3 separate regions of the Homo sapiens genome follow, and regions 1 and 2 are each linked to region 3. Evidence: fine-mapped expression QTL. A gene starts in region 3. Each other region holds a variant in brackets. All regions are shown on one strand. Distances are from middle to middle. Region 1 overlaps ERN1 (endoplasmic reticulum to nucleus signaling 1). Region 2 overlaps ERN1 (endoplasmic reticulum to nucleus signaling 1). Region 3 holds the start of ERN1 (endoplasmic reticulum to nucleus signaling 1).

The links. PIP is the estimated chance that this variant, and not a neighbour inherited with it, causes the effect. A credible set is the group of variants that fine-mapping cannot tell apart.
Region 1: its variant is the best candidate, but not a certain one, in a credible set for the expression of ERN1 in blood mononuclear cells (TOPMed, PIP 0.53).
Region 2: its variant is the best candidate, but not a certain one, in a credible set for the expression of ERN1 in whole blood (TOPMed, PIP 0.83).

The regions. Positions count from the first base shown.
Region 1 is chr17:64,048,218-64,056,367 of GRCh38, reverse strand. It overlaps ERN1 (endoplasmic reticulum to nucleus signaling 1), which reads left to right. Exons shown (of 22, transcript NM_001433.5): 13 at 420-693; 14 at 1,540-1,630; 15 at 1,929-2,118; 16 at 2,997-3,096; 17 at 3,389-3,588; 18 at 7,166-7,313. Among named protein-coding and RNA genes, the nearest start is that of ICAM2, 32 kb to the right of the region's middle. RefSeq lists enhancers at 1-367, 368-1,111. The variant T/C (reference allele first, on the strand shown) is at 4,929.
Region 2 is chr17:64,068,103-64,076,285 of GRCh38, reverse strand. ERN1 (endoplasmic reticulum to nucleus signaling 1) reads left to right here. Exons shown (of 22, transcript NM_001433.5): 5 at 1,039-1,111; 6 at 4,183-4,305; 7 at 7,995-8,096. Among named protein-coding and RNA genes, the nearest start is that of ICAM2, 52 kb to the right of the region's middle. RefSeq lists silencers at 1,043-1,337, 1,821-1,880 and an enhancer at 1,521-1,600. The variant A/G (reference allele first, on the strand shown) is at 4,670.
Region 3 is chr17:64,126,108-64,134,259 of GRCh38, reverse strand. It overlaps ERN1 (endoplasmic reticulum to nucleus signaling 1), which reads left to right and starts at 4,116. Exons shown (of 22, transcript NM_001433.5): 1 at 4,116-4,284. The coding sequence starts at 4,231. RefSeq lists enhancers at 607-656, 2,252-2,311, 3,216-3,265, 3,316-3,515 and silencers at 3,936-4,065, 4,156-4,605.

The DNA.
Region 1 (8,150 bases), 78 kb after region 3:
TGGGTGGCGAACCTGGGGCTTGCTCTCACCCACCACTGGCTCAGCCATGCTACCTGTGCTTCCTGTTTGGTTTCACCTTTGCAACAACTCTCAGACTTTCATGAAAATCACAGAATTTTAGAACTGAATGAAACTGGCACAGCCCTCAACCTAGGGCACAGTCCCTCCCCTGGTGGCCATCCAGCCCCTCCTAGGGTTGGGGAGTGGGCTGTATGAGCAAGGATCTAACTAGTCGGTGGAAAGACGTCCAGTCATCGAAGCAATTCTGCTTCCAGGTGCCTTCTCACTGGTCTCTTTGTGCCCTGTTGGGTCACATAAAGTACACATGCTCCCTCCGCCACTGGGACCTGTCCCTTCCCAGCTGCTTGTTTCCCTGTGGGAACAGCTGCCCTTGTCTGGATGTGGGTTTCTCTTCCCAGAGCATGCATCAGCAGCAGCAGCTCCAGCACCAGCAGTTCCAGAAGGAACTGGAGAAGATCCAGCTCCTGCAGCAGCAGCAGCAGCAGCTGCCCTTCCACCCACCTGGAGACACGGCTCAGGACGGCGAGCTCCTGGACACGTCTGGCCCGTACTCAGAGAGCTCGGGCACCAGCAGCCCCAGCACGTCCCCCAGGGCCTCCAACCACTCGCTCTGCTCCGGCAGCTCTGCCTCCAAGGCTGGCAGCAGCCCCTCCCTGGAACAAGACGATGGAGGTAAAGCCAGTTGCCATCTTGGTGCTATTTTATGTTTTATTCGAGCACCTCCTGAGAAGTCCAAGGAGTCTCCATAAGATTGTAAACTACCATTCTCAGGGGTTCACTGTGTTCTCCTCTAACTTCCACTCTGGGGGTCTCTGTGGGAAGGCTTCTGCCCCATCCCTTGGCATCTCCCCTTCAGAGGGCCTTCTGGGAACCACCCTGGCCATCCTCCTGTCTTTCTCCACAAGGGCTGGGCGTCGCGGCTGACCAGAGGTGAGCTGCCCATTGGGCTGAAGAGAGTTCCCAGGGCCAGCCGGTGGCCAAGTGTGGAAGTGTCACAGTTGGTCTGCTTTCCTCTGTGGAAGTTGGCTCAAGCCAGTTGTCAGAGCCCCAATTCTGAGGGAACTGGCACAGAGCTGGTGCAGGGAACTCAGAGCCCTCTGTCCCAAGGAGTCTCCTCGTTTTACATGTCCATTGCCGCCACCTGAATGCTTCAGTGCGGATCTTTACAGTGGACTTTGTGGTGGTTGTTAACTATTAAACCATTCTAACTATATCACAATGAATATGTATAAGTGTGTGAAACGCTATGGAGAATCCCTGCCTTCCAGAAGGTTTTAAGATATGCAATCGCACAATAAGGTAAAGGCGGAGACAGAATGCAGGGGCAGGGGGAAGAGGCAGTCCTGGGTGTACATGGGGAGTGGGCCTGGCAGGCTCTTGCTGAGCAGCAGTCTGGGGTGCAGTGCCTCTTAAATCCCATCTTTTAATCTGAGGTCAGGAAGCTTGTCACTATGTTAACCTCAAGGTTCTTTAGGTGATATCTGTTTGAAACAATCTCTTTTTCCTATTTTGTCCCAGATGAGGAAACCAGCGTGGTGATAGTTGGGAAAATTTCCTTCTGTCCCAAGGATGTCCTGGGCCATGGAGCTGAGGGCACAATTGTGTACCGGTGAGTGGATTAGCCAGCCCCCTGCCCTCACCGCCTGGTGTCTAAGTGCCTGTCAGGTTGCGAGCCTGGTGCCAGGCTCAGAGCACAGCAGGGTCAAAGCAGTGACCTAGACGCATGGAGTCCGGCCTCCAGGGAGCTTGCACACTGAGACAAGCGATGATTCCGGGGCCACCAGGCAGTCAGGCGGGGCTCTCTAGGCTGGGAGGCAGTAGGTGAATGCTGTGGACCCAGGTTCTCACCTCATTTACACAGCCTGACTCGTGCTTCCCAGACACAACTCCCACTCCTCATCCCGCAGGGGCATGTTTGACAACCGCGACGTGGCCGTGAAGAGGATCCTCCCCGAGTGTTTTAGCTTCGCAGACCGTGAGGTCCAGCTGTTGCGAGAATCGGATGAGCACCCGAACGTGATCCGCTACTTCTGCACGGAGAAGGACCGGCAATTCCAGTACATTGCCATCGAGCTGTGTGCAGCCACCCTGCAAGAGGTGGATTTATTTTTTTTATTTTGTTAACTTTATTAAAGTCATAGCACTTTGGGAGGCCAAAGTGAGCAGATCACGTGAGCTCAGGAGTTTGAGACCAGCCTGGACAACATGGTGAAACCCCATCTCTACAAAGAAACCAAAAATTAGCCAGGCCTAGCGATGTGTTCCTGTAGCCCCAGCTACTTGGGAGGCTGAGGTGGGAAGATTGCTTGAGCCTGGGAGATCAAGGCTGCAGTAAGCAGTGATTGTGCCACTGCACTCCAGCCTGGACAACAGAGTGAGACCCCGTCAAATTAAAAAAAAGTTACAGTGAATTGTACTAATTTTAAATGTAATAGCTTGATGAATTTTGACAAATGTCTATACCCATTTAACCACATACACAGTCAAAATGTGGAGCATTTTTATCCCTCTGGTTGTAACAGGGTGGTCCCCCCAGCATGCCTGGGCAGTCTGCTTGCAGTTGGCATGTCTCTCCCTCTTTGCCTCCAGGAAACCTGGACAGTTGTTCTTTCCCTCTTCAGTCATGGCTGGTGTGGGCTTGGAGGATGCCAGTTGGTAACTCCAGGCTTTAAGATCATCCAGCAAGCTCCTTTTGCTCATTTTCCAGGCTCACTTTGAAACCATATCAGTATCATTTGGATTCCTTTGTAGGTTTACTTATATGAGGCAATGAACTTGAGTTTCTTGCCTTCTTATCTTTCTCATTGTAAATTAGTAGATTTGGAGGTTTGCTCCTTGCTGGAAAACATGGATTTAGACAGAATGTTGTCAGTAAAACTTGCCATTTCTTTCTTAAAATGGTATCAAAGAAAGTGAGCCGAGGGGCCAAGTCCTGAGGACTGTGTGCCGTGACCTTGCTGTCATGTCTTTTGCAGTATGTGGAGCAGAAGGACTTTGCGCATCTCGGCCTGGAGCCCATCACCTTGCTGCAGCAGACCACCTCGGGCCTGGCCCACCTCCACTCCCTCAACATCGGTGAGAGGCTGCACTTTACCAGGCCAGCGGCCCGGGTGGGGAGAATCAGTGGCCCAGGTGGGGCTAACCAGTAGCTCGGGTGGGCCTTGCTTCTGTTCAAGCTCTTGGCTATATCACCAGTAGCAAAGATGAGTGGTGTAAGAATTTGAGGAGGAATCCGACATAGTTGAAAATCAGAACATTTGGAGGTGGCGGCAGGCATATTGGGAGTCTGACGAGGACACATTCCCCATTGGAGGAGGCCTGGGGTTGCTCCTGGTAAGCATTGGACTAATCTGGAGTTCTCTGTTAGTTCACAGAGACCTAAAGCCACACAACATCCTCATATCCATGCCCAATGCACACGGCAAGATCAAGGCCATGATCTCCGACTTTGGCCTCTGCAAGAAGCTGGCAGTGGGCAGACACAGTTTCAGCCGCCGATCTGGGGTGCCTGGCACAGAAGGCTGGATCGCTCCAGAGATGCTGAGCGAAGACTGTAAGGAGAACCCTGTGAGTAATAGGCTATGGCCCTTTGAAAACTACAGAACCAGCCCATTGTATCTTCAGGAGTAGAACCTTTAAATTCCAGGTTTGGGGGCTGGTGCCCGTGTAGCTGGAGAATGGCATTCCTTTCACCAAGAGCTTCTGTGTGAACATTCTGTGTCATCTCATGTTCAGCTGATTAAAGGGGCAAATGTGGGCAATTATCTATTTTTTTTCCCTATTCTTCCAATCACTTGTTTTTTTTTTTTGTTTGGTTGGTTGGCTGTTTTTTTGTTTTTTTTGTGTGACAGAGTCTTACTGTCACCCAGGCTGGAGTGTAGTGGCATGATCTCAGCTCACTGCAATCTCCACCTCCCAGGTTCAAGCGATTCTCCTGCTTCAGCCTCCTGAGTAGCTAGGATTACAGGTACCTGCCACCACACCCAGCTAAATCAATCACTTTTTAACCCCTTTTTAATTTTGGTAAACTGGGAAGTCAGGGCTTGCTTAGCGTGAGCAAACTTCAAGTTTTCATTATTTTTAAAATTTTGTTTTTGTTTTCTCAACTTATTTTGATAATTTTTAGACATAGAGAAAATTAAAAGAAAAAAATTTTTTAGAAGTGCGATCTCGCTATTTTGCCCAGGCTGGTCTTGAACTCCTGGGCTCAGGCTTAGCCTCCCAAAGTGCTGGGATTGCAGACATGAGCCACAGCATCTGGCTGAAAGAATGTTAACATGAATACCTGTGTATCTCCACCTAGATTCAACATTTGTTAATACTTTTGCCACATTTGCTTTATCTTTACCTATTACTGAACCATTTGAATATAAGTAGCAGGCATCCTGGCCCTTCATCCCTGAAGACCTCAGCACGTGTCTCCTAAGGAATACATTGTGTTTCCAACCACAATACCATTATCCCACCTCAACAGTTAATACTGTTTCTATCCATCATCTCATATTCAATCCATATTCAAATTTCCCCAATTAGTCCCCAAATGTCTTTTATAGAGTTGGTATTTTGCTACCTACTGGGTTTTGATACCTACTGGGTTTTATATACCAGGATGGAATCAGGTGTCTTGCGTTACATTTGATTCTGTCTCTTGGAATTTACAAATCTTTCCACCTATATTTTGTTCCATGTTGAAGTTCCATTTTGAAGAGTCCAGGCAGTGGGTTATAGGATGCCCCATTCTGGTTTGTTTGCTTTTTTCCTCATGACAGCGTTGAACATTTCTCTGTATTCCTTGTATTTCCTGGAAACCAGAAGTTAGGTGGAGAGGCTTGATTAGGTTCAAGTTAAATGTTTTTGGCACGAATGTTTTTGGCAGGTCTCTACATCAGAAAGCATGTGATGGCAGA[T/C]TGTATCTGTAAGATTATTATCACCTCCTCTTAGTGATGCTACAGCTGATCTCTCTACCATAAGGGTTCATTTCCTCCTCTCTTGTTAGTATTTGGGGTGATACTTCAGCACAATGTGAATATCCTGTTTACTGACAGTCACTCACCCAGTGGTTTAGCATGTGTTGATCACCCTTGCCTGAAGTACTCAGTTGAGTAGAAATTCTTCTACATTGTTAGCTGACATTTTTCTGTAAAGCAGAGCTTTCTTTTCACTTTCTTCTCTCTCTCTTTTTTTTTTTTCTTAATCGCTATGGGCTCAAGGATTTTGAAACTAATGTTATAATCCATTTTAGTCCTTTTTTTGTTATTTACTTCTTTTGATACACAAATTGTTCCAAATTTGGCCAACCTGGAAACCCCTTCAAGCTGGCTTCTGCATCCATTTGCTGGGAGCGCACTCACACTTGAGCACCTTATTCTAGCACAAGTCGCCGAGGCTCACCTTGGACACTCCCCGATGGAGACCTGGGTGGGTCAGTCATCTTGAGTGGATTAGATATGGCTGCCTCTTATCCAGCTCACTGGGGACCAGCAGCTGGTCAGATCATCAAAGAAGTCAGTTACAGCGAAGAATCATAAAAACACGCACGCACGCCGTAACACTTAATTTTAACTTAAAGCAAGTAATATTAGCCCTTAAGTCATAGAAATCTTGTGCTGTAGGCTAAGGTCTTTTCAGATTTGGGTCTGACTGACTGGAGTCCTCATTTTCCCCCTTGCATTAAGCACACTTCTGTACCACTTCTGTGACTTCTGCATGGAGGCTTGGACACTTCAAACACTTCCTAAGCGATTTGAGAGCAGAAGCCTGGTTTTTAACGCTTCATGACCCAGTCCCTTACGGTTGAATCCACCACACCAAATGCCGCAGCAGCTCTTGTAACCATTCCCTTTCCTTTATCGAGTCTTTCTAAAGATTCAGCTTACCTCAGACTTCGTGGCACTCATGTTTAACAGCTTATGGAATATCCAAATTACAAGGACAAGTGGCAATAATAAGTTTGGGAAAGAACATAATTGGGGCCAGGCAGGTAGGAAAGATGCCTCTTCACCTTAGTGTTGTCTGTGCTGGGGACAGCAGGCTGCAGAGAGTGTGGGGGGCGTGAAAGACCCAGAGAGCTCTGGGAGTCAGGGGCGAGCTCCAGCTGTGGTGGCCATGTTCCTCCTGTCCCGAATCCAGCACCTTCCTAAGGGAAAATCCAGTGAGGTAGAATAAAGCATGGTAGGTTTGGAGATTGGAAGACCTGAGTCCCATCCTGGTTTATCACATCCAGCAGTGACCCTGAGCTTGTCATGCAACCTTTCTGTCCACGTTCTCATCTGGGGATGAAAGCATTTGCTCTGCTCGCCTCACAAGGTTGTTGTGAGGCTGAATGAGAGTGCTGTGTTGTTCAAGGTGTGTCTCCTCCAGCATGGGAGGTGATGAGCCCCTGCTTCCTCACACTAGACCCTCACTTCACCTGGTGGAGAATCTCAGAGGCAGGGCCTACTAACAGGGACCCAAGCTGTGCTCAGGAACCACCTTGGTATTACACCCCAGGTAGCATGAGCTAAAAAACACAAACGTACATTTCCCTCGAAGGAAGCTATTCTGTAGACACAGAATGGTTTCATGGGATAAGTGAGAGGCTTTCTCGGATTAACATCAAACATGACCTCCTTGGTAACTTGTCAGATAGTTTCTTTCTAGGGCTGTTTTTGAATCATAAGCTGTTTTATTCACTTATTAGCAATTTTGATACCTACTGTGTGCAGGCACCATTCTGGGCCCTGGGGGTACAGCAGGGAAGCAACGACACAGAGACCCTGTCTGTGAGCACTTTCGTGTTGGGGGTAAGGAATATATAACAGCCAGGAGGGCTTTTGATGGGCCAAGCACTGTCGTAAGCAACCATTTTTGCATATTAATGCATCTCTTTTGACAACAGCCCCATGCTGTCAGTGTCCTCATCTCACATGAGAGGGAACCAGGGGCTTCCAGGTGGCTCCAAGCCCAGGTTCTCCACTGGGACCTCTGACACCCATGCAGTGCTGCAGGTTAGCCCTCGCTGCTCTGTGCAGCTCACATATGTCAGCTGATTCTCCCAGGACACCTTCTAGGTGGCAGAAGCAGCAGCAATGCTCCTCCCTCCCTGACTGTGAGTGAGGATGAAAACTCTGCTCCCAGACCTCTCACGCCTCATGTCTCTTTTCAGACCTACACGGTGGACATCTTTTCTGCAGGCTGCGTCTTTTACTACGTAATCTCTGAGGGCAGCCACCCTTTTGGCAAGTCCCTGCAGCGGCAGGCCAACATCCTCCTGGGTGCCTGCAGCCTTGACTGCTTGCACCCAGAGAAGCACGGTGAGCGGTCCAGGGGTTGGGGTTGGGAGCAGCTCCTCAGCTGCCTCAGGTGGCCCTGCAGAGCTGGGCTGGTGCCACCTTTGCACTCACAGAGGCCGTGGTGCCCCAGCTGCTCACCCCGCAGGCCTCAGGACCTCCAGACTTGTGCCAAATCTGGTAGAGGGTTGGTAGGGTTATCTCTGGGGCGCCACCTTCTAAAGCTGAGATGCTCCAAGGTTCCTCCAGGTCACCAACTACTTGTGTGACCTAGGCAAAGCCCCCTTTGGAGACCTTCTTTTTCTACCTGGTGACATGAGGGTTGAATAATCAGAGGTCCCTTCCTGCACTGGCATTTGGGAAGACAAATTGTCTTCTCTCTTGGGATGGCGAGTGGTCAGTAGGTGCAGTCTGTGCTGGGCTGGGGACAGACAAGCTTTATCCTCACCCTCCTGGTCTCCTGGTATGGGTGCAACAAGTCTTTCTTCCAGACTTCAGGTTTTCCTGGGTGGTAATTGGCCCATGACACTCCAGTGCTGCCTTTTGAAAAAATTACAACTAAATTATTGTTTTGTTTATGCTTAATTTTTCTTATTATAGAAAACACAGATTAGCATAAAGGCCCATATATTCCCATTATACAGGGATGAATGATGGCTATTGATACCTTTGCATATACGTTATTCCAGTCATTTATCTAGACGTGATTGCATATTTTATAAAAATACAGTTAAATCCTGCATACTGTTTTGCAGCATGCACGTTTTTCAGCGTCACCTTGAATCTCTCTCCACGTCAATCCATATTTAGTCACAGCCGCACTTTAACAGCTCATGGCCCAGCGTAGGGAGGCACCGTAGT
Region 2 (8,183 bases), 58 kb after region 3:
CTTGGAGAAAAAGGTGACCATGCAGTAGAGGCATTTCTATAAAAGCAGGTATCTATAGAACAATTTCAAAAACACAGAATGTTCTAAAAATAAAGTATACTGAAACAAGCATTAACCAAAAGAGCTCGTCAGATGTCAGCTGTAGACTCAGAAGAATCAGTTTTATGATGAAATGCAGTTGAAACATTTGGATTCCTTTGAGTTTCTTTTCCTGGCACCTATCTTAACTTCCTCTTTAAAACCAAAAGTCTCAATTTTTCTTGTTTTTCAATAGTGAATTATTTACTGAAGAAAACATCAAAACTCTTTTCCACCTCAAACTCTTGTGTTGCCCCTGTAATGGCGACTTCTCCTTTCCCTCGAAGCTTGAGCTTGGCACCAAGGTTGCATCCCTTCAGCATCAATGTCCTGGCTCCCTCCCATGGGGCTCTACAAAGCACTGTCATTTTACTCAGTCTAGCCAGCTCTGGCTCTGTATTCCAAGCCAGGACAATTCTTTCTTAGCATTTCAAAGAATATATAACTCTCCATATTTGTGTAAATCTTTTCAGAAAAGGTTTGTGTCACCCCTGGGAAGCACCCTGGACAGGAGACCTTGAGGGGCCTCTGCACATGGTGTCAAGTAAAGGAGTGGATGTTTACAGAGCTCAGGGACCTGGGAGCTTGTCAAAATAGATGTGGAAAATTAGCTGGGTGTAGTGGCAACATGCCTGTAATCCCAGCTACTTGGGAGGCTGAGGTGAGAGAATCACTTGAACCCAGGAGGCAGAGGTTGCAGTGAGCCAAGATGGTGCCACTGCACTCCAGCCTGGGCGACAGAATGAGACCCTGTCTCAAAAAAATGAAAATAAAAACACAGTAGATGTGGAAGCATAGGGTGCCCCCTTCTCCTTTGTATTCAGTTAGGAAAACTCTCATCTGCAAAGTGCTTCTCTCTTTTTAGCAGAATTAGGTAATAGAAACAAACTGCCTGGTAAAATTGTAATAATTGCACAAGACTTGGTTAACTTTTTTTTTTCTTTTTTTTTTTTTTTAAAGAAACTTCCTTTTACCATCCCAGAATTGGTGCAGGCATCCCCATGCCGAAGTTCAGATGGAATCCTCTACATGGGTAAGAGTTCCTGTCTCCAGAAACTTGTGTCTCTTTGATGTAAGTCCCGGAATCTGGGAAAGTGGCATGCGGAGAGAGAGGGCGCAGTCACCGCCTTGCCAACCCTTTCTTTCCTGGGTTGTGCTTCAGGTGCTGTTCTCCCCAGGATCAGCTGACCAATTAAGAAAGGGCTCCCCCAACTTGGGAGAAGAATTGACATCATTAATATGGTTACTCATTTAACAAGCTTTTAGTTGCTGTGTTGACTTAGTCCTGAGATTCCAAGATTGCAACATACCCAGTGGCAAATGGATGAAATTTAAAGTGAGTACAATCATCTAAGCCAAGGAAGGAAAGCCAGGCTCTGCCTGTTAATTATAGCGCTTTCTTAGTATTTCCTGCTATCAGAATGTTTGATAGAACAGCACTTAATAGCTTGCCTAGATAAACTGCCTTCATACCTATGGGGTCACAGCTTTCAAAGCATCAGATCACCTGCTTTTCTTTTACTATGTTGCTGCCAAAATGTCAATAAAAAAGCATTTGCAACACAAAGGAGAGCTGTATTTATCTTGAAATCATAGTAGCAATAATAGCCCGTATTTATACAGCAGCTTTCTTTTTGAGGAACTGAAAGTGCTTATTGCCTATTCATGCCTCGAGGAGCTTTATGTGTATTTCTGGGTCTCAAGTGCAGGCCAGACTTTTAAGGTTTTGCTCAGGACACTGAGACTCTTGCTTCCTTCCACACCTTCAGAATGAGGAACTCCCAGCCTAGGAATTTGGAGGAAACGATCGGCACAGATTTTTCTCTCTGTGGGCCGTGACCTGGGAACATCTGATAATCTTCTGACCATCCATGTCACTGTGTCCTATCTGGTCTTCCAGCTTTTGCCAGCAATTCATCACTTATAGTCTGCTTAGGATATTGTCTTCTTATCATCTTTGTGCTGTGGCCTCTTAGGCGAGTTCATTAAACATATTTAAGAGCATGGTAGTTGCCCAATCTACCCATTAAAGTAATAACTGAGTTATGTAAACTCTAGTGGTTCTTGAAGTAACCAGCTATGTCATGCTAGATGGAAAAGGTTCGTGGTCCTAGCTCTGTTCTCCTCTACCTTCAGATCATATTCATATTATGATTTTGTCAGTGAGAACAGAGTTGCGATCCATGGGTAAGTTGCACACATGTGGAGCAGGCATGTATGCAACATCTGTTAGAACTTTAGAGGTATAGCATTAGCAAATTACAGGCCAGGTGCAGTGGCTCACAACTGTAATCCCAGTACCTTGGGAGGGTGAGGCAGGAGGTTTGCTTGAGGCCAGGAGTTTGAAACTAGCCTGGTCAACATAGTGAGACCCCGTCTCTACAGAAGAAACATTTTTAAAAAATCAGCCAGGTGTAGGCCAGGTGCAGTGGCTCACGCCTGTAATCCCAACACTTTGGGAGGCTGAGGCGGGCAGATCACGAGGTCAGGAGATCGAGACCATCCTGGCTAACACAGTGAAACCCCATCTCTACTAAAAATACGAAAAATAAGCCAAGCGTGGTAGCACATGCTTGTAGTCCCAGCTACTCAGGAGGCTGAGGCAGCAGTATCGCTTGAACCCTGGAGGCGGAGGTTGCAGTGAGCTGAGATTGCACCACTGCACTCCAGCCTGGGCGACAGAGCGAGACTCCGTCTCAAAAAAAATAAAAAATAAATAAAAATTAGCCAGGTGGCCGGGCATGGTGGCTCACACCTGTAATCCCAGCACTTTGGGAGGCCGAGTTGGGTGGATCACGAAGTCAGGAGATGGAGACCATCCTGACTAACACGGTGAAACCCTGTCTCTACTAAAAAAAAAAAAAAAAAAAAATTTGCTGGGTGTGGTGGCACGCACCTGTAGTCCCAGCTACTCAGGAGGCTGAGGCAGGAGAATCGCTTGAACCTGGGAGGTGGAGGTTGCAGTGAGCCGAGATCACTCCACTGCACTCCAGCCTGGGCGGCAGAGCGAGACTCCATCCCAAAAAAAATAAAAAAAGAGCCAGGCATAGTGGCACATGCCTGTAGTCTCAACTATGGGGAGGCTGAGGCAAAAGGATGACTTGAGTCCAGGAGTTTGAGGCTGCAGTGAGCCGTGACCACACCTCTGTACTCCTCCTTGGGCGACAGAGCAAGACTCTGTCTCAAAAAAAAAAAAAAAAAAATTTCAAAGGCTCTGTGACCTTCTCCAGCATCTCAATATTCTTCTTCTAAGAGTCTCCAAAACAGGAGACTTTTCCAATAAGTTAGGAAGATAAAAATGACCACCAGAGATCATGCTTTACAAAATGGAAATACACGCATCACAGTGACTGTGTTGACCTTCACATTGGAGGCCCTTGCTACAGACTCTCCATTCCTAGGATGCTGTTGGGTATATACCATTGATACATATGCTTTGGGTTTTCTTAATATATAGTGTTATTTACTGTGCTGTCTGCCTGTCATAATCAGCTGACCAAGATTAGGGGGTATGGCCCGAGGCCAGGGAATTACTTACTGGCTGGGAACAGAGGCCGAGACAACTTTGACATCCTTAGCATCAGGTTGCAACCAACTCCACTGACCAGTCCCAGGTACTAGTTAATTATAGTCATAAACAGTAACTGTGGATCCTTCTCACATGGTGGCTGGTTATTAGGGAGGTTGAGAAATGTGAATGATGGTTATTAGGGAGATGAACCCCTGGGCACATTTCTGTATTTCTATAGATCCCAGTCCACGGGAAAAGGATTGCCCTTCACAGGCAAGACTTTTCATATTTAAAGCCACTCATCAAAGCAATAAAATCTAACTTGAAAGTTTGGGGAACTTTTTGAAACTATAATTATGTTATTGGGTTTGGAGGAATTTGTATACCATGTTTAGGTTATTAAATTATTATAAGACCTATGGACCTAAGAAGTTTTATTATCTCTGCATTACCATTTATATCATCACCTTAGAAATGACATCCTAAGAAATTCAGGTCTATCTCTCTCAATACAGAGCATCTTGGCTGCTAGTTTGGCAGCGATACTTTTTTCCATATGGTGTAAACGACGATGTGTTTTTGTGTCCTTTCAGGTAAAAAGCAGGACATCTGGTATGTTATTGACCTCCTGACCGGAGAGAAGCAGCAGACTTTGTCATCGGCCTTTGCAGATAGTCTCTGCCCATCAACCTCTCTTCTGTATCTTGGGCGAACAGGTAAGAAATGAACCTTTGTCTTCTACAACCTGCCTGTTTCCAGAAGATCGGAAGAAGCTCCCCAGCCTCCTTCCCTAGAAGGTGGCCAGAGCTGCTTTTTTCCAAACACAGGTCCCATCATGTCATTTTCCTTTATAAGACCCTTCAGTGTCCCCCCAGTGTGCAAGGGATACAGTCCAAACTGCACCACGGCCCAGAAAAACCCCTGTGACGCCGCTGCCACCTTTCTCGCCTCATTTCTCTCATTTCAAAGTTGCCTGGCCGGGCGTGGTGGCTCACGCCTGTAATTCCAGTACTTTGGGAGGCCGAGGCAGGTGGATCACCTGAGGTCAGGAGTTCGAGACCAGCCTGACCAACATGGCGA[A/G]ACCCCATCTGTACTAAAAAAATACAAAATTAGTCAGGTGTGGTGGCATGTGCCTGTAATCCCAGCTACTCAGGAGGCTGAGGCAGGAGAATTGCCTGAACTGGGGAGGTGGAGGTTGCAGTGAGCCAAGATCAAGCCACTGCACTCCAGCCTGGGCAACAAGAGTAAAACTCCATCCCCCCTGCCCAAAAAAAAAAAAGTTTCCCAATTAGGATGAACTACCTGCAGCTCCCAGAATAGCAGTGTTGTTTTTAAAGACTTGTAGTGGTGTGGTCCTCTCCACCAGGTATGCCTGTTTTTGCCTATCTGGCAAATATCCTCTCTCACAACTGTACTCAAAAGTCACCTTCTCTGTGAAGCCTCTTCTGCAGCCTCACAGCCTGCACCCTGCTCAGGAACACCCGGCTCTCCCATTCTAGGGGCACACGTAGCAGTTAACAGGCCTGTAGTGGCAGCCATCTCACCCCTCGTCATTGTCCCTTGACAGGCATGGCTTGCACCCTCTTCACCGCACCATTTTGTGTTTCCTCCCTTTTCAGCCTCTTTCTTCTTAACACTTGGCACTGCATATTTATAAATTCAATGTGCCTACTTCCTGCCTCCCTCACTAGAATATCAGTTCCCTGAGGGTACGACTTTGTTTTGCTCAGCTGCTGTCTCTCTACATCAGGCATATTGCCTGATGTGTAGCAGGGGCTCAATGTTTGAATGTATGAATGGGTGGGTCCCATTATTGCAGAGACCTGCCTTACTTATTACCATATGTGCAGCACCTCACACATGTCGGGGATGCCATGAAAATTGTTGAACGATACTTAAAGCTAAAAGGAGAAACAAAAAACATTTAGAAGGAAGAAATTATACCAAAAACCTAGGATGAATTCATTACAATTGAGCACTACATTTAGGTCTAAACTTTCAGGCAGCCAAGGATTTGAAAAAAGAGAACCGTCCTGAAAGTGTTGGGGAAAGCACTGCATTTCTAAAACTCAGTGAGACTAATCTTGGGCCCTGCAGAAGCTGGCCGGGCTCTCCTGGAAATGGGTGGAAGGTCTTAGACTGTAGAAATCATGTATTCCAGCTTCTGACTGTAGTGACTGCTTAGGATTTATGTGTTTACCTTTTCCATTAAGTAAATTCTTACAGTGGCCCCAGCTTCATCCAGATATAAAAATTGCGTCATTCTCAGGTGAAATTGTGGTGTTCGAAGGAGCTGGGATATGCATGAGGTGGAATGTGTGTGCATAGGTGTGTAAATCCATTGCCTCCATTATCTATTGCTGCATGACAAACCACCCCAACTTAGCATTTTATTGTTAATGATTCTGTAGGGAATTCAGGAAGGACTCAACAAGAACCCATCATCTTTATTCCACATGCTTGGTTGGCCTCACTCATGTATCTGAGACTTCAGTTCAGTTCCGTGTGACCTTTCTCCATACAGATAGCCTGGACTCTTGATATGGCAGCGGGCTCCCTCTTGAGTAAAAATGGGTGTTACAGTGCCTCCTAAGGTCTGGGCTCAAAAGTTCCAGAACCTTCCTTCCACTGCAGTCTGTTGGTCAAAGCAAGTCTCAAGGCCAGCTGAGAATCAAGGGTAGAGATATAGACTCGGCTTCTTGATGGGAAGAGTAACATGCATTACAGGAATGGGAAGAATTGGTGGTAGTGACCTTTAGAGATGTTCTACTGCAGTCCTCCCTCAGGCTGCAGTAGTTTACAACCCTCCCACTCCCTCCAAAGACCCCCAAAGTCCAATCCCAGCATCAGTCCCAAAATCTCACCTCTCATTATCTGCATGAGGTCTGGAGGTAGATGATGCTCCTCAAGTGTGGCACCTCTTGATCGGAGACCTGTGAATTAAAGAGACAGGGTCTTTCTCCCCTTCCCATCCCCCACCCAACATGCAGTGGTGAGACAGAGACAGGATAGCTGCAGTAAACATGTTCACTCAAAAAAGGGCAGGAAAGAGAGACACATATCACACATTGGGCCTTAGTAATTCTGAAATCCAGCCAGGCACATGTTTTCAGGTTCCCCTCCTCCAGGGGTAGGGAATATTCCTTCATTAGGGCCCAGTTTTGCCCTCTGGGATTGGTTCCCTAATATAGTGCTCTCAGTGGCTCTTGGTTCTGCCCTCTGAGAAGTCCTTTCTTTTCCATAACAAATGGCCAGTTTTGTATCTTTCTCAGTCCGTTCCTTGTCCATTGAAATTTGGGGATCTAGAAGCCCTTTTTTTTCAATTTGACTGTCTCTGTTCCTTTTAGTCTATGCTGATACCACTCCTTTAAAAACTATGTGGGCTTCCCATGTGTCAAATTATAATTTATTCCATTAGATAAAAGCCATACCCACAAGTTTCTAGACTTTGGAATGTGAGTGCAATGGGACAACACATGGTTTTTAGAACTCCCTTGATGGGGGCAGAGGGTCTATGAGGGACCACCTTAAAATCTTTCAGAGGTCTCAAAGAAGGATCTTACAGCTTCAACTTTGATTTGGTTGATCTTTACCCTGAGCCCATTTTTTGTTGCTGGCAGTACCCTGGATTTGATCTTTTCCCTAAAGTTATTTTTTATATTGAGAATCTTTTCCAGCGATATTCAGTCCTGGACCCTTTATAGTTCCTCTGTATTCTGCTGAATGATTTCTTCCTCAGCTCATTTGTCTCACAATATATCATAGACAGCTAAGAGAAACCATTCAACATTTTCTGCCTTCTGTCTGGAAATCTCCTTAGTTGGATCCCTGAGTTGATTAGGTACTTTTTCTGTCTTCCAAGTTACTGCAAGCAATAGTCATGCTCATCATGGCACCCTCCACAAGCTGGGTCACCCCTTTTCCATTTTCAATAGCAGTGCCCCCTCTGCACTAGCAAGTCTCCACCAACCTTTTTATCAGCCTCCCAGCCTCCACCTGCCAGCTGGTCCTAAAGTCAATGCCACATGTTTTAGGTGTTTGTTATGGCGCCATCCTGCTTCAAGGTGCCAATTTTTAATTGTCAGCAATCCATTGCTATGTAATAAGGCACCCCGAAGCTTAATGGCTAACAACAACATTCTATTGCTTACACTTCTGTGAGCCATGAGTCCAAGGGCATAGCGAGGGTGGGTCGTCTCTGCTTCCACATGCTGTCAGCCAGTTTCACTCATGTGTCTGGGCCTTCAGTTCTCCTCACATTGCCTTTCTCTATCGACATGGATAGTCTGGACTTTTTGGCCTACAGTTTAGGGAGGATTTGTTTGTTATAATTAGATAAGGACCACACCTCAGTAGGTACTATGGCCCCTCCGTGGTAATGGGCTGGCTGGTCTGTGTTCTTTAGAATACACCATCACCATGTACGACACCAAAACCCGAGAGCTCCGGTGGAATGCCACCTACTTTGACTATGCGGCCTCACTGCCTGAGGACGACGTGGACTACAGTAAGTGCTCTCTGCTGGATTTCACAAGCTTGGGCCAGTACTTTTGACCTATGTGGAAACAGTGGCTCCAGAAAGTAGGATTTTCTT
Region 3 (8,152 bases):
TTGCCCAGACTGGTTTCAAACTCTTAGGCTGAAGATACCCGCCACCTCAGCCTCCCAAAGTGCGGGATTACAGGTGTAAGTCACAGCGCCTTGCCCCTTTATGGTTGTATTAATATTTATCCCATAACTACTTCCACACACTCTGTAGGTTCAGTTCAAGAAGCAGCAGCAGCGATATCACTAAAAACAACAACAACAAAAAAACTGACTTGATTTATTCTGATAAAGATACTATTCCTTTGAAATGTTACTGGAGTTTTCAACCATGACCTTTCTTTCTGGTTTTACTAGATTTTTCTTTCAAGTCTCCGCCTTCAAAGGTATCTATCCTGTCACTAGCTATCTGCAAATCAACCTCACAAGCATTTTTAAATGAGATTTTGAAGGGTTTTAAACACAAATGAGACAGGCACAAGCTCCTTTTTTGGGTCATAATTTATTACACTAGAGGGCGATATTTGCTAAACTAAAAGGGATTCATGGTTGCAGGGATGAAGGCTGGACATCATGATTGAGCTGGAGCCCTGGATCTTGACTGCCTTCAGTGTACGGTGGAAACTGCAAAACGCACAGGTCTCTGGGCTCTGCCCCTGGACATTGTGAATCAGTCAGGGAAAGGGGTACAAGAAGTTATTGGAAATATGTTTTTAATTTCTTTTTTTTTGTTTGTTTTTTGAGATGGAGTCTCACTCTGTCGCCCAGACTGGAGTGCAGTGGCGCAGTCTTGGCTCACTGCAACCTCTGCCTCCCGGGTTCAAGAGATTTTTCTCCCTCAGCCTCCCAAGTAGCTGGGACTACAGGCGCACACCACCACGCCCGGCTAATTTTTGTTTTTTTAGTAGAGACAGGGTTTCACCATGTTGCTCAGGCTGGTTGGTCTTGAACTCCTGACCTCGTGATCCACCTGCCTCGTCCTCCCAAAGTGCTGGGATTACAGGTGTGAGCCACCATGCCCAGCTTTTTATTTCTATTTTTTTGAGACAGGGTCTTGCTCTGTCGTCCAGGCTGGAGTGCCATGGCACGATCAAAGCTCACTGCAGCCTTGACCTCCTGGGCTCAAGCCATCCTCCCACCTCAGCTTCCCAAGTCACTGGAACTACAGGTGTGAACCACTATGCCTGACTAATTTTTTGGTTTTTTGTTTTTTTTTTTTTACAGAAACAGGGTCTCACCATGTTCCCTAGGCTGGTCTTGATCTCAAGCAATCCTCCTGCTTCGGCCTCCCAAAGTGCTGGGATTACAGGCGTGAGCCACCATGCCTGGCCTGGAAATCTGTTTTTTGTTGTTGTTGTTTTGTTTTGTTTTTTTAGCTCTCCAAGTTTGGGAACCAGTGGTTTAAAGGGAAGTGAAAATAAGATTTTCTCCCACCTCCCCATAGTCAGATCCTGCTGTACTTCTTTGTTGAATCTGATGTATATATGTTTCTTACACTGGTGGAAAAGAGGCCTTATCTTTACACTAAGACCATGACCTTTGCTTTATTCAGTGGATGTTATTTAATGTGACTTGCAGAAAGGTCATTTACTGCCCATTTGCAGGTCTTTTATATGGTCAGGTCCACTTCAAAGGCACCCTACAAAATATTCCATTTCTGTTTGTGTTTATCAGTGCTATCAGCTTTTACTTTATCATAAGCAAAAAGCTGCCTAAAGAAGTACTTGACTGTAGAGCAAGATTATGGGCAATGCCACCATAAATAAAACCAGTGCTTATCTGTCTGGATTGCCAATCAAGTGAAGAAGTGCATGAAGCATGTGGACGATGCATAAGAAATTCAGAGAATGGGGCCGGGCACAGTGGCTCACGCCTGTAATCCCAGCACTTTAGGAGGCGGAGGTGGGCAGATCACGAGGTCAGGAGTTCGAGACCAGCCTGGCCAACATGGTGAAACCCCGTCTCTATAAAAATACAAAAATTAGCCAGGCGTGGTGGCAGGCACCTGTAATCCCAGCTACTCGGGAGTCTCAGGCAGGAGAATCGCTTGAAACCGAAAAGGCAGAGGTTGCAGTGAGCCACGATCGTGCCACTGCACTCTAGCCTGGGCAAAAGAGTGAAACTCTGTCTCAAAAAAAAAAAAAAAAGAAAGAAATTCAGAGAACATGTAACAGTGCAATTAAGCCCTGGGGATTTGGTCCAACTGAGTGTAAGATAAATAATACCTAACTGTCCAGGCTTCTTGGAACAGATTTTTTTTCTTTCTACGATCTTTAAAACTGATTTATGAGTGAAATTGAGGTCAGCATTCCCCTTTGTGTTTCATCTGCTGATGTTACAGGGTCACAGTGACATTTTGAATTGTAAAAGGGCTGCCAGAGTTCCAGTACAGCAAATTTTCCCCTCCTAGACTTACTCTGTTTGAGAAAAAGCACCAGAGGGGGGGATGTGAAAGTGACATTTTTCAGTCAAGCTTCTCTTTTAAGTCAAGTATACAGGGTCTAACAGATGCTGTTGTCAGCTGGCAAACTGGACAGGTAATCACTAAAGAGGTCCTCCCAAGCCAGGTGTCGTGGGGCACACCTGAAGTCCCAGCTACTGGGGAGGATCTCTTGAGCCCAGGAGTTTGAGAGCAGCCTGGGCAACACCGTGAGACCTCATCTCTAAAAAGAAAAGATAAAAGGTCAAGAAATAAAGAGCTCCTCCCAGTTTCAGGGCTGTAGGCCTCCCTGGAAGCCCGGCTATACTGCTCAGGAGTGCTGGGCCTCTCAGTACATCTCTCTGCCAATCCCAAACCTCTGTTTGCATTTAGACATTCAGGTAACACTTTTCAAAATGTCTCTACTGTTTTCACAGTTGCCAAGATTCTTCCCACTCTTACAGAGATGTGTTGGAGTCTCCAGCATGCGGTAGGACTTAGTCCCTTCACTGTAATCCAGGCCTAGGGGGTTAGGAATGGGGAGCTCTATTTGCAGGATTTGGGCTTACTGTCATTTTGGTCTGTTTTAGTTGGATAAGATTGACCACAATGCACACAGACTGGACATTTGGCCAGTCCCCCACTACTACTTTGTTGTTTTGTCTAGGAGTGCTTATTCTTTTCCTTCAAACCTGAAAAATCTTAGGCTCTCATATAAGCAAGTCAGGAAAAATTAGAGAATTTCATAGCCGTTTTCTTTTTCTCCTAGGATAAGTTAGATACCTTTCCCTGGGCTCCAAATCTCAGTTTACTGTCTTTCCTTGCAAAAGACGTGTCCTCCCTACCCATGTCCCTCTCAGTGGAGGCCAGTGCCAGTGACCAAACAGCTGCCGAGCTCTTTAACTCTAATTAGTACTCCACACCCTCACATAGACCTTGCAGGAGGCCTCAACCCACCCACTCCCTCCAACGAGTTGTGACGCAGACCATCTCAAACTTCACATCCACACGTGTCACATCAACGCACGTGACACAAGTGGCCGAAATGGTTTCCTCCTTATAATTTTTGGTGAGTGACTTGGCCGTGGTTCATTCCAAGCGGAAGTGATGGCTGGTGGATATGACTTGAGGGGAATTCCTGAGGGCAAGGAAAAGGAAGAAAGGGGCCCCAGAGAAGACGAGGCACAGCTGGAGAACCCTAGGGCTGTGAACACTGCGACTGCCGCGCGGGGCAGCTGCGCCGTGTTTGCTGGAAGCCTCCGGTAGCTGCTGAAACCTTCGCTCCGGAGGTCGCCTCGGTAAACCTTGCGGATGATTCCACCACGGCGGAAAGACGAAAAGGAGGCTTCTAGGCACCCGGGACCGCCCGTGTCCCGCCCTTTTCCCCGATGAAGTCTGACGCGGCAGGTCCCTCGGCAGGGTTAATGGGACGGCCTGGTGGGGCATTGCCGGTCTTTCCCAGCCACAGACAAGCTTCGCGCCTCGATCCCCCAGCGCCCCCAGACGCTGGATGCCGAGGCCTGGTCCTTTACAGCCGCCGACGCCTCATGAGCGAAGCCAGCCAGATGCCAGCACCGCCTTCGGCCCCGCCCCGAGCCAGCCCCTCCCACATCCCCGCCCGGGGCACGCCCTCGGCCCGCCCCCATCTCCGCCCCGAACACGCCCCTAGATTGGCCCCGCCCCGTCCCCGCCCGCAACTCCGCCCCGACCGGAAGAAGCCGCGGCACCCAGCGCTTATAGGGCCGGGAATGGGGGTGCCGCCGCTGCCTAGTCAGTTCTGCGTCCGCTGAGGCTCGGTCACCGCCTCGCTGTCGTCGCGGCGCCCCCGCCCCGTCCTCTGTCCGTACCGCCCCCGGAGCCAGGGCCGAGTCCTCGCCATGCCGGCCCGGCGGCTGCTGCTGCTGCTGACGCTGCTGCTGCCCGGCCTCGGGGTGAGTGACCGGGGAGCGTGGGGTGGAGGACAGCTCGCGACGGCCGGGTCGGGGCCGGGGCAGCGTCGCGGCGCCGGGGCTGGAGTCCGAGCTGGGAGCGCGACGGCGGCGGCCAGATGCCCCGTGAGCCCAGCCGTGGGAGGCTCGGGCCGGGCGTAGGAGGCGGCACCGGGCCGGGAGAGCTTCCCTGACGGGAGTCGCGGCCCCACCGAGGCGTCGGCCGCCCGAAGAGCCTCCCAAGCCAGCGCGGCTGTCACGGGCAGCGGCTCCCCGGACCCCGCGGGCTCGGGCGCAACTTCGTGGCGTCCTGCACGGCACTTGGGGGTCCCAGAAGGCCCCGGCCTGAGGAGGCCGCCCACCTGCGGGACCCTCCTCCTCGCGGGCGGGCGCCGGCGCTGCCTGGCGGGGGCCGCGGAGGAGCCGAAAGGGCGTTGGGATCCAGGGGAAGGGTCTGTCCTGCGCTTCGAATCCTTGTTTGAACTTTTTAAAAATTCGAAAACTTTGGGGAACGAATGCAACAGGGAGTAAGGACTCTCACCCGAGAGCTGGCTTCTGCCACTTGCCCTGCCGGTTTCTTGGTACTGGGAGGCTGCAGGCTTCCTTCTGTGCACCGAGACTTCCTTGAGCAAGTGGAGCTGTGGGAATTGCACTCTTGGAAGATCCCGCATGGGTTCGAGGTGAGGCCGCTTCAGAACCTCAAATGAAAGACTGTCTCCTCGTGGGAGAGCACCTGGGGCCATCAGAAATGTCTTTTCATCTTTTTCTGGAGGAGACGAATGATAGGGCCTGGTTTACATTCATTTAACTCTTTATGACCTTCACTCAGCTGTGGATTTGGGGGCACTTTGTGGGAGACTTGGCTTTTTTTTTTCTTCTGGTTGGAAGAACCTAAATTAGCGAATGTTTTTCACAAAATGTATTGTTCAGGATGTGAGCGTGGCAAATTTGTCCGTGTTCTGTTTAATGACCTCTTTAAAGGTACTGTGTACTCTTTAATAGGGATATCATGTACCAGGTGTCCCAGTAGAGCACTGACATGTGTGTGCCTGAGTGCCAGCCACCGTGTGAACTCTTTGGAGGTTTTGCATTTTAGGTAAATAACTGTCTGTACTCTTGGAGTAACAAGAATTTGGAAACAGGAGAAGTAAATAAATAAGGTTGCCTTTTTCAAATTCAGGGTTTTTTTTTTTAAATAAAGGAAAATTTGTAGACTCTTTATAATAGAACTTGTGGAAGTTAAGTTTTTCTTTCAAATAAAAACCCCACTTTTACAACTAAGGTCAGGTTTTGAACTTGAGCACCTCACCTTGGATTGGTAACTACTGCCTGGCATCTGTTCACAAACGAAGGTATAAGCAGAATGACCAAATGTTTGACATGAATTCGATCATTTCATAACGTCAAGGGATAGGTGTATAATGGTTTCCTTTGCCACATCTTTCCTTTTGCTACTTTGTCACTGGATTCTAGTGTTTGGTTATTGAATAACTTAGGCTAAAGAGCCAAAAATAACGATTTAGCTGTAGTTGGAACTATAGTTTCAGTTCGTGTAAATATTTCCAATTTGTATTTAGAAATCCAAACTTCTCAGAGTTCATGATAAAATATTCCAGACCCTTATCAAAAGGTTATAGTTTAGCGTAACTATATTTAGGTGAAAGGTCAGGCCGGGCCCGGTGGCTCATGCCTGTAATCCCAGCACTTTGGGAGGCTGAGGTGGGTGGATCACTTGAGGTCAGGAGTTTGAGACCAGCCTGGCCAACATGGTGAAACCTTGTCTCTACTAAACATACAAAAAAAAAAAAAAAAAAAAATTAGCCGGGCGTGGTAGCGCAGGCCTGTAATCCCAGCTACTGGGGAGGCTGAGGCAGGAGAATCACCCGAACCTGGGAGGCAGAGGTTGCAGAGATGGAGTCACTGTGCTCCAGCCTGGGTGACAGAGCAAGACTCTGTCTCAAAAAAAAAAAAGAAAGGTCAGAATTTCACTCCTAGAATTTTCTCCCAAGGGTTTTTACCCCCAAACATAGTAAGAATTATTATTTTAAAATTGTAAATGAAACTCATAGCAAAGTTTGCAGTTAAACCAGGCAACAGTGATGTGCAGAACGCAGTGGGTATAAAATCAGACAAACCTGAGTTCTAACTGGTCACTTGCTAGCTGTGCCCTAGGCATATTCTTTTACTACTACTACTACTACTTCTTTTTTTTTTTTTTTTTGATATGGAGTTTCTTCGCTCTTGTTGCCCAGGCTGGAGTGCAATGGTGTGGTCTCAGCTCACTGCAACCTCCGCCTCCCGGGTTCAAGCGATTCTCCTGCCTCAGCCTCCCGAGTAGCTGGGATTACAGGAGCCCACCACTACACCCGGCTAATTTTTGTATTTTTAGTAGAGACGTGGTTTCACCATGTTGGCCAGGTTGGTCTCGAACTCCTGACCTCAAGTGATCCACCCACCTTGGCCTTCCAAAATGCTGGGATTACAGGCATGAGCCACCGCACCCGGCCATGATTTTACTTCTTAGAGACTCCTTCCTGATAGGTGAAATGGGGACAGCTAACATGTGAAAGAAGGCACCACCTTCACACGTGCTTAATAGATAATAAATGTAAATTCTCTTTATGCTCCAAAGATGCTTTTTACTCTAAGCCATCATTTTTTGAATGTTATACTATGCCTCTGCAAGAAATAGTTTTTGATATTTCTTTTTGATTGATGTAGTAACTATTGCATTGGAGGCAATACTGTGATTTTCTTTCAGTGTGTGTCTTATTGAGCCAGACATTGACTCATTATGAGTTGAGACTTTAGGCTACCAGATCCAAAACGCAATAACATTGGTATTATTAAGCACTTGAGGCTGTCTTTTGTTAATCCAGAATGTGCTTATTTAGTCAGTGAGTTTTTCCTTTCTTCCTAGACCTATATCTTGCTCCTAGAGTTGGTTAGGGTTACATCATCACTGTCAGCAGTCCTCATTTTATGGTTATTTAGGTGCCACATCTCTCAATTACCAAAGAGATCAGTACAATGTGAGGCAAAGTACCTTTTTTTTTAAAAGCTATAAGATATCAGATTTCTTTCATTTAGCCAATATTTTGGTTTTAGAGGGAGGTTTTTAAAAAGTCACCGAGAACTGAGGATCATGTGTGTATAGAAACACTGTAATCTGATAGATGAGTCTTAACTAGCAATGTCTTTGCTTATCATTTATTCTGACAGTGATCACCTGCATTAATTATCCTAATAGGCGATATCAAGTGTTTATACTGAGGCCATAAGTAGAATGTTCATTGAGTTTGTTATCAGGGCTGCTGATCATGAAATTAAACTGTAGTTGTGCACATGTGTATTGTTTCATTAACTTGCCTGCCTATTCAGCCTTCTGCAGTAATGTAGCTTCTCAGAGCACAGGAGAAAAATGTATCTGAGAGTTATTCGAGAGAGAGTTCAACAATAGCCCATATTTCCGAACATAAATCTAGTGAGCCGCATTAAAGTTTCTTCATGTCTGGATGGAATAGTGTCACTTGCATAGGTCTGAGGGTTTCATTATTTGCCTGCCCCAGATTTGGACTCCGTTTTTCAGGTGAAAGAATCCTTGGATAACTGTTTCATTTTCATAGGAAACCTCTTTGGTTTCGGGATCCAAAGTAATATGTAGGTTCAATATTTTGTAGGTTTTATAATCAAATGTCTCCCTAAAGAGATGACATAGGGAAGAAAAGCCTAATGTATCATCTTAATGGATTCAGTTTTTATTATGCACAAATAACTGGGCTTGTAACCTAGGAATATGATTAGAGCGTGATGCTGGCTTAAAAAATAGGACTGGTGAATCACAGTTTGTGAATAATAAACTACTGGTTGG